Homo sapiens: one gene and its partner. The protein of the gene in region 1 interacts with the protein of each later gene in a biochemical or structural test. Each region holds a gene or a part of one and is shown in the gene's direction. Other genes may lie near its edges. The genes, in order: ALKBH3 and OTUD4.

Evidence for each region.
Region 2: the proteins of ALKBH3 (region 1) and OTUD4 form a complex in vitro, tested with the Homo sapiens proteins (one large-scale study listed by BioGRID).

Annotation. Positions count from the first base shown.
Region 1 is NC_000011.10:43,894,294-43,898,118, forward strand, and holds part of ALKBH3 (alpha-ketoglutarate-dependent dioxygenase alkB homolog 3), read left to right. Parts: intron 1-3,009; exon of another isoform or gene 3,010-3,825. UniProt on the Homo sapiens protein: Dioxygenase that mediates demethylation of DNA and RNA containing 1-methyladenosine (m1A). Repairs alkylated DNA containing 1-methyladenosine (m1A) and 3-methylcytosine (m3C) by oxidative demethylation. Has a strong preference for single-stranded DNA.
Region 2 is NC_000004.12:145,138,932-145,142,756, reverse strand, and holds part of OTUD4 (OTU domain-containing protein 4), read left to right. Parts: intron 1-422; coding exon 423-561; intron 562-1,117; coding exon 1,118-1,378; intron 1,379-2,765; coding exon 2,766-2,806; intron 2,807-3,825.

The DNA of each region.
Region 1 (3,825 bases):
TACAACACTGTTTGAAATCCACTGAATAGGTCCTTTCACTTCTGTGATTCATATTTTTTGTATTCTTTTCCTAAAATGTCTTTTAAGGATAAAATGTCTTCACTGAACAGTGAGATAATGCTGAATTTTAATTTAGACATTCAGTTCTGAGGCATCTGAATATAGAGTATTGGTTGGAGAGTCTAAATTAATCCTCTAGTTCATTATCCCCTTTTTTCTTCCTTTTCTCACTGTTTCAGTACCAAAAATAACCCAGAAAAAAAATACCTACTTAGAAACATAACACAAACTTTATGCTATCTCAGTATTCAGTCCCTGAGCAAGTCAGGGAAGTGCTAATTAGATTCCCAGTAACATTGGAGAAAAAAGCCCATCTTCCTCCTTTACATTCTTGTTTTTCTTGTTAAGCGTGTAATTCTAGCATCTGATCTTTATCGCTATGAAGATAAATTTAAAGCTGTAAAGTAAATAGGAAATACAGCCTGCTGACATTATTATTGGAATTTCACTTTGGAATTTATTCTCTTGAACAAAGGTTTATTTAATATTTTTGTTTTATGAGTGTGGATCTCATGTTATGTGTTTTTCTACCACAATAAAAAAGGAGAACAAGAGATAAAGAAACTTCCAACTTCTGGAGGCTTCTTGAGTCTCCCCAGGTGTCCCATTAGCCAACTATTTGTTGTTTTTGCTGTTTATTTTTTAAAATCCTCTGCTTAGAATATAATATTATAATGTAGTATCCACAACAAGGAATTCCATCTTTAACCATGGTTTTCACATCAGAGTAAAGCTGAGTGATTATGTAAGCTTCCCTGGCAGTTTTACCTGACAACCATGGGATATACTTAATAATAGTAACAATAATATTCCTTCCTTTGCTGAACGTCTGTTTCTTCACTGCGAAACATATAACATGATATGGTTTGGCTGTGTCCCCACGCAAGTCTCACCTTGAATTGTAATAATCCCCGTGTATCAAGGGCAGGGCCAGGTGGAGATAATTGAATCATGGGGGCATTTTCCCCCTTACTGTTCTCATGGTAGTGAATAAGTCTCATGAGATCTGATGGTTTTATAAATGGGAGTTCCCTGCACATGCGCTCTTGCCTGCTGCCATGTAAGATGTGACTTTGCTCCTCCTTTGTCTTCTGCCTTGATTGTGAGGCCTCCGCAGCTATGTGGAACTGTCAGTCCATTGAACCTCTTTTTGTTGGTAAATTACCCAGTCTTGGGTATGTCTTTATTAGCAGCATGAGAACAGACTAATGCAATAGACATTCAAGGAGTTCCCTAAAGTAACAGTTCTTAGAGTATAATCTGTAGATCCCTGGAGAGGGTTCATGAAACCTTTTTTGGGAATCTACAAGTAAAACTATTTTCATAATAATACTAAGTCTGTATGGTATTTTCACTGTGTTGGGTTTGCACTGATGGTAATGGTGGATAAAGCTGCCAGCACCTTAGCATGAATCAAGCCATTGTCACCAAACTCTGCTAGTAGTCATTGTGTTCGTCATCATCATGCGCTTCCAGTGTAAACTTTAAAAAATGCCAGTTTCATTTAAGAATGTCTATTGATGAAGTAGTAAACATTATTCATTTTATTAAATCTTGGTCTTTGAGTATGTGTCTTCCCAATAGTCTTCTTAATGAAATTAAAAGTGTACCTAAAGTACTCCAGCTACAAACTAAAGTGTGATTGTTTGAGCTGTAAGCTGAACTAGCTACTTTTGTTGTGGATTGTTTTTGCTTAAAATACAACGGGCAGACCGACTGTGGTTATTCAAACTTGAGTATTTGGCAGACATTTCCTCATAAATGAGTGACGTGAATGTCACTTCAAGGAAAACAATGGACAAGATTTTTTTTACTAATGATAAAAGTTAGGTTTTCAAGCAAAAATTAGAATTTTAGAAAACTGGTATCTGCCACTATTAGGGTTCTCTAGAGGGACAGAACTAATAGGATAGATACACACACACACACACACACACACACACACACGTATATATATAAAGGGGAGTTTATTAAGTATTAATTACACAATCACAAGATCCCACAATAGGCTGTCTGCAAGCCGAGGAGCAAGGAGAGCCAGTCTGAGTCCCAAAACTGAAGAACTTGGAGTCCGATGTTTGAGGGCAGGAAGCACCCAGCACGGGAGAACGACGTAGGCTGGGAGGCTAGACAAGTCTCTCCTTTTCACATTTTTCTGCCTGCTTTATATTCACTGGCAGCTGATTAGATTGTGCTCACCAGATTAAGGGTGGGTCTGCCTTCCCTAGCCCACTGACTCAAATGTTAATCTCTTTTTGCAACACCCTCACAGACACACCCAGGATCAATACTTTGTATCCTTCAATCCAATCAAGTTGACATTCAGTATTAACCATCACAGTCACTTTGAGCCTGACTTCTTCCCATTATTTAGGCTTTTCTGCTGAGATCAGTGGTAATATTGTTGGATGAGAATTTTTTTTGTTATTTTATAATGAAATGTGTCAGCATTTAGAAGATCTGTGTAACTTAGTGAACTAATATTTTCCAGATGACCAGTGGTTGATGTTACAAAACCATACAAGGTTAAAGATTTATTCAAAGTGTAGGCTGGACCAATGGCTTTATTATTTTTTTTTATTTAAAGCATTTTTTTTTTAGAGACACAGGGTCTTGCTCTGTTGCCCAGGCTAGAGTGAGCACAGTGGCTCAATCCTAGATCACTGCAGCCTTGAACTCCTGGGCTCAAGCGATCCTCCTGCCTCAGCCTCCTAAGTAGCTGGGACAACAAACGTGCCACTGTGCCTGGCTTATTTTTTATAGAGAGGGGTCTCAGTTTATTGCCCTGGCTGACAGTGGCTTTATATATAAAATAATATGAAAAGTTTGACATGGTTTCAGATTCCATATTGCAACTAACCTTTAAGAAGTCAGCACCTGTTAGTGGAACCGCGACTGCTCCGCAGAGCTGCTGGTATGAGCGCCCGTCGCCACCCCACATCCCAGGCCCAGCCATTCTGACAAGAACTAGACTTTGGGCTCCTTGAGAATATTCAGTTTTGTAAGTTTTAATATCCTCTCACCATATTCAGCTTAAAATACCATACTTAATGATTATCCTTGGCAAGACAGGTGTGAAAGGATTGCTGTTGTATTACAATCATGGTGCAAAAATACCAGTCACCAGTGAGGGTATACAAATACCCCTTCAAATTAATTATGGCTGCCTATGAAAGGAGGTTCCCTACGTGTCCTTTGATTCCGACATTCATGGGCAGTGACACTGTGAATGAATTCAAGAGTGAAGATGGGGCTGTTCATGTCATTGAAAGGCGCTGCAAGCTGGATGTAGATGCACCAAGACTGCTGAAGAAGATTGCAGGAGTTGATTACGTTTATTTTGTCCAGAAGAACTCACTGAATTCTCGGGAACGTACTTTGCACATTGAGGGTCATAATGAAACATTTTCCAATTGCTATACCGTTCACCCTGAAAATGAAGATTGGACCCGTTTTGAACAGTCTGCAAGTTTAGATATTAAATCTTTCTTTGGTTTTGAAAGTACCATGGAAAAAATTGCAATGAAACAATATACCAGCAATATTAAAAAAAGGAAAGAAAATTATTGAATACTACCTTCGCCATTTAGAAGGAGGCATAACCTTTGTGCCCCATTGGACTCCACCTTCCATCACGCCCTCTTCAGAGACATCTTCGTCATCCTGCAAGAAACAAGCAGCGTCCATGGCTGTTGTCATCCCAGATGCTGTCCTCAAGGAGGGGCTGAGTGGCGATGCCCTCAGCAGCCCCAGTGCACCTGAGCC
Region 2 (3,825 bases), on another chromosome or scaffold:
TGAATTTCAAGATTTCAATGATTTTGCTCACTTGCCTTAAAAGTATTGTGTTGTATTTAACTCTGCTAGTGGATAGGTGCGGTGGCTCACGCCTGTAATTCCAGCACCTTGGGATGCCAAGGCGGGCAGATCGCTTGAGCCCAAGAGTTTTGAGACTAGCCTGGGCAACAGGGTGAAACCCTGTCTGTATTAAAAAATACAGTCCTTGTTGGTAGGCAACCCTTGGTTAGGATCAAATTTGTTTGCATATTATCTTTAGCTACTGTGTGTTTTTCTTACATTTCTAAGACTATAAGGGCTATTTGTACTTCATTTGTATAAAAGGCAGGCAACTCAATATGTATCTGGTGGTTAGAAATAGTGTTAAAGCAAAATGACCTCTTGTCTTTTTCTGTCTTCCCCCACTCACCCCTTTCTTGAAGAAGCCAGCAGAACATGTGTCTTTGTCAAATCCAGCTCCCCTTCTAGTTTCTCCAGAGGTACATCTAACTCCTGCGGTGCCTTCTTTACCAGCCACTGTGCCAGCCTGGCCAAGTGAACCTACAACTTTTGGACCAACAGGTTAGAGAAGGGTTTAGAAAATCTAGCCAGCCAAAATACCTTTCTAGTCAGAGACTTCAAATTCTTGAGTGGAAGTTTGACCTCTGAGCAGGATTAGGTGTGTGGAGCCTCACAGAGCTTTCTGTGATACTCTGCTTTGCTCTGCTTCCAATGTGGAAAGACCATGTACATTTGGTGTTGTATTCATCTGACATATGCCCTCATAGTCTCAGGAGCATGATGTTTGAGCTGGTTGCTTTGGTTGCTCAGCACTAATTAGCACCACGGTTTGATGCTTCCTTCATGGGCCAGCTCTTTATGGCCCCGTAATGAACCCCTTGACCAGCCCCATGTCCTACACGTGCCTGCAAGAGCTACTATTAGAAGACATTGACTCAGAGCTTGTATCCTGGACGTATTTCCTTCTTGGTGTCCAGGAGGGCTCTTGGTTGATACTAAAAGGTACTACTTTAGATTGGCTTTATCAGTTATACAGCATTCTTTATAGGTTAATGTAAGCATATTTGTAGAGATTTTCATCTTTTGTCATTTTGATTCCTTTTCTTCTCTTTTGTAGGTGTCCCTGCTCCAATTCCCGTTTTGTCAGTGACACAGACTTTGACCACTGGACCTGATTCAGCTGTATCCCAAGCTCATTTAACACCCTCTCCAGTTCCTGTGTCAATACAGGCAGTTAACCAGCCCTTGATGCCTTTGCCTCAGACATTGAGCCTTTATCAAGACCCACTCTATCCTGGGTTTCCTTGTAATGAAAAGGGAGATCGAGCCATTGTACCACCTTATTCACTGTGTCAGACTGGGGAGGACCTACCTAAAGGTGAGCTCCTTCTCCAAGTTCAAATCGACTTTATCAAGTCCAAATAAGCTTAGTTAAGAAATGAAGAGATGTAAGTAGAGGTCAGAGGTCTGGTTTCTTAGTAAGCTCAAGGATGGGAAGGACAGCAAAGTTTTAGCTATTAGTCAGTCATTCTTGTTTCAGCTTGATTTATTAGAAAATGTATTATAATTTTTTTTTTTTTTTTTTTTTGAGACGGAGTCTCGCTCTGTCACCCGGGCTGGAGTGCAGTGGTGTGATCTCGGCTCACTGCAACCTCCACCTCCCAGATTCAAACAATTCTCCCACTTCAGCATCCTGAGTAGCTGGGATGACTACAGGCACATGCCACCAGGCCTGGCTAATTTTTTGTATTTTTTAGTAGAGACGGGGTTTCACCGTGTTAGCCAGGATGGTCTCGATCTCCCGACCTCGTAATCTGCGTGCCTTGGCCTCCCGAAGTGCTGGGTTTACAGGTGTGAGCCACCGCGCCTGGCCCAGAAAATTTTTTTTTGTTTCTAGCATACTTGTTAATGCTAGTATGCTTAGTAATGATACCTCCTTCTGTGTTTTTACATAAATGGACTTGAAACCATTCTGAATTACAATAATAATTTCACTAATTAGATACCTAAACACTGTGGAGCTTTATCAACACTGGTCTGCATTTCAGACATGCATCCGTGAAAAAGTTACAGAGAAAAGCAAATATAGTATGTAGTGGCTGTTAAAGTACTATATTTAGTATGTCTTATTTTTGTTTAAAAAATTCTTTCAAAGTTTGCTTTCCCTCTTTATTTTTAAGGAATTTACACCTCCCTCCTTTTTAGTTTCCAAAATTTTATATCTGTAAATTTGAGTAATGCACTGACTACTATATGCTGTTTACCTGGATTTATGTGGATGTTTTTGTTTTATTAGTTAGTAGTTTGATGTTTGTGTCTATGAGTAACTGGCTCATGGCATATGAATACTTGGAAGAATATTATCCTGCAAATGATGCTACTAATAAGTTAGGTTTTATGTTGATTTTACCATTCTTCTCAACATTTTTATTTCCTAATTTTTAAACCCCCAGAAAAGTTGAGAAAGAAAGCCACCTGAATGTCCTTTACCCAGATTCAGTTTTAATGAGATAAAAATTTCAATCTAAGCCATTTTGGGATTTATATGCTAACAGACAAAGCCTATTGAATCTGGAATTAACCTTTGGGAACAACCTGTTTTTGGGTTGTGTTATATTACAGTTTTTATCTATGTTTTGTATCACAGGCTAGAGAAGACAATTATAGTAGGTAAAATTGTCTTTAGAACTATATATTTAATGAGGATGATTTAAAAAAATCTCTGCAGATATATAATTTTAACAAGTGATTACTTTTATTTTTAGATAAGAATATTCTTCGATTCTTCTTCAATCTTGGTGTGAAGGTATTTACATTTTATCATCTTAAAAGTTATTTTATTCATTAATAGTGTTTTAAATTATTACTAGTGTTAACTCTTACCCTGTCAGTCAGTAACCTAAAGTTTACTAAATCTCATCATTTTAAAAACCAGCATTTTCAGTACTATATCGTTTGTTTTTGGTGCTAGTAGAGGCTCCAGTTTTACTTACTTTTTTGTCTTAACTGGTGATGGCTTAACCTGTGAGTATATTTAAGACATAGCTGCATCTTTGGGCAGCCTAGTGGAAATGCCCTTGCTGGGGAATAATTAGATGTAAATCTGGGCTTGAAGTTCTGCTCCATCACTCTTTAGCTGAATTTCCCTGGGCAAGCCATGTAGTGTATCTGGGCCTAGCTTTTTTCATTTATAGAATGGGGGTAATATTCTTTACTTGCCTCCATTATTGAAAAGATCAAAGGAAATAACGTGTACATCCTCCTATGTAAGATAGTGTGGTTGTTGACTAGAAGAGCAGAGGTATCCTTTGGGAAGTGGTCAACCTAGAAATAGCTTTTCTTAGGTTGGAGAACTCTGTCCTTGTTAAATGTTAGGTTTTCTCCTGACCTAGATTAGTTTTTGTGGGTTCTAGACAGTTAAACTATGAAACGAAGTGCCCTACCTTTAGCCTGCTGACCACTTTCATAAAAAGAAACTTGATTATTTTACTATCTGCTGCATTGCTTAATTTTAATGTATTTAATGTTGATTTTAATTGGTTAGCCAATTAGCTGGTTATACTTTCTTCATATTTTGGTTTTTAGCTGAACTCTTGCAGAGGAAGGATTTGGAATATTTCATTTTCAACATTATCCCTCCCTGATTAGAGGTCTAACTTAATCCTTACATTCGGAGTACTCTTGGGGGCTCCTAGAATTGCAGAGTCCTGACATTGGAGATCATCTACTCTTATACTGACATTCCCAGTAAAACAAATTCAGATGTTAACTGGCCTGCATGGGGTCACACAGTGAGTTAGTGGTAGAGCCCGAATGTGAATGCAG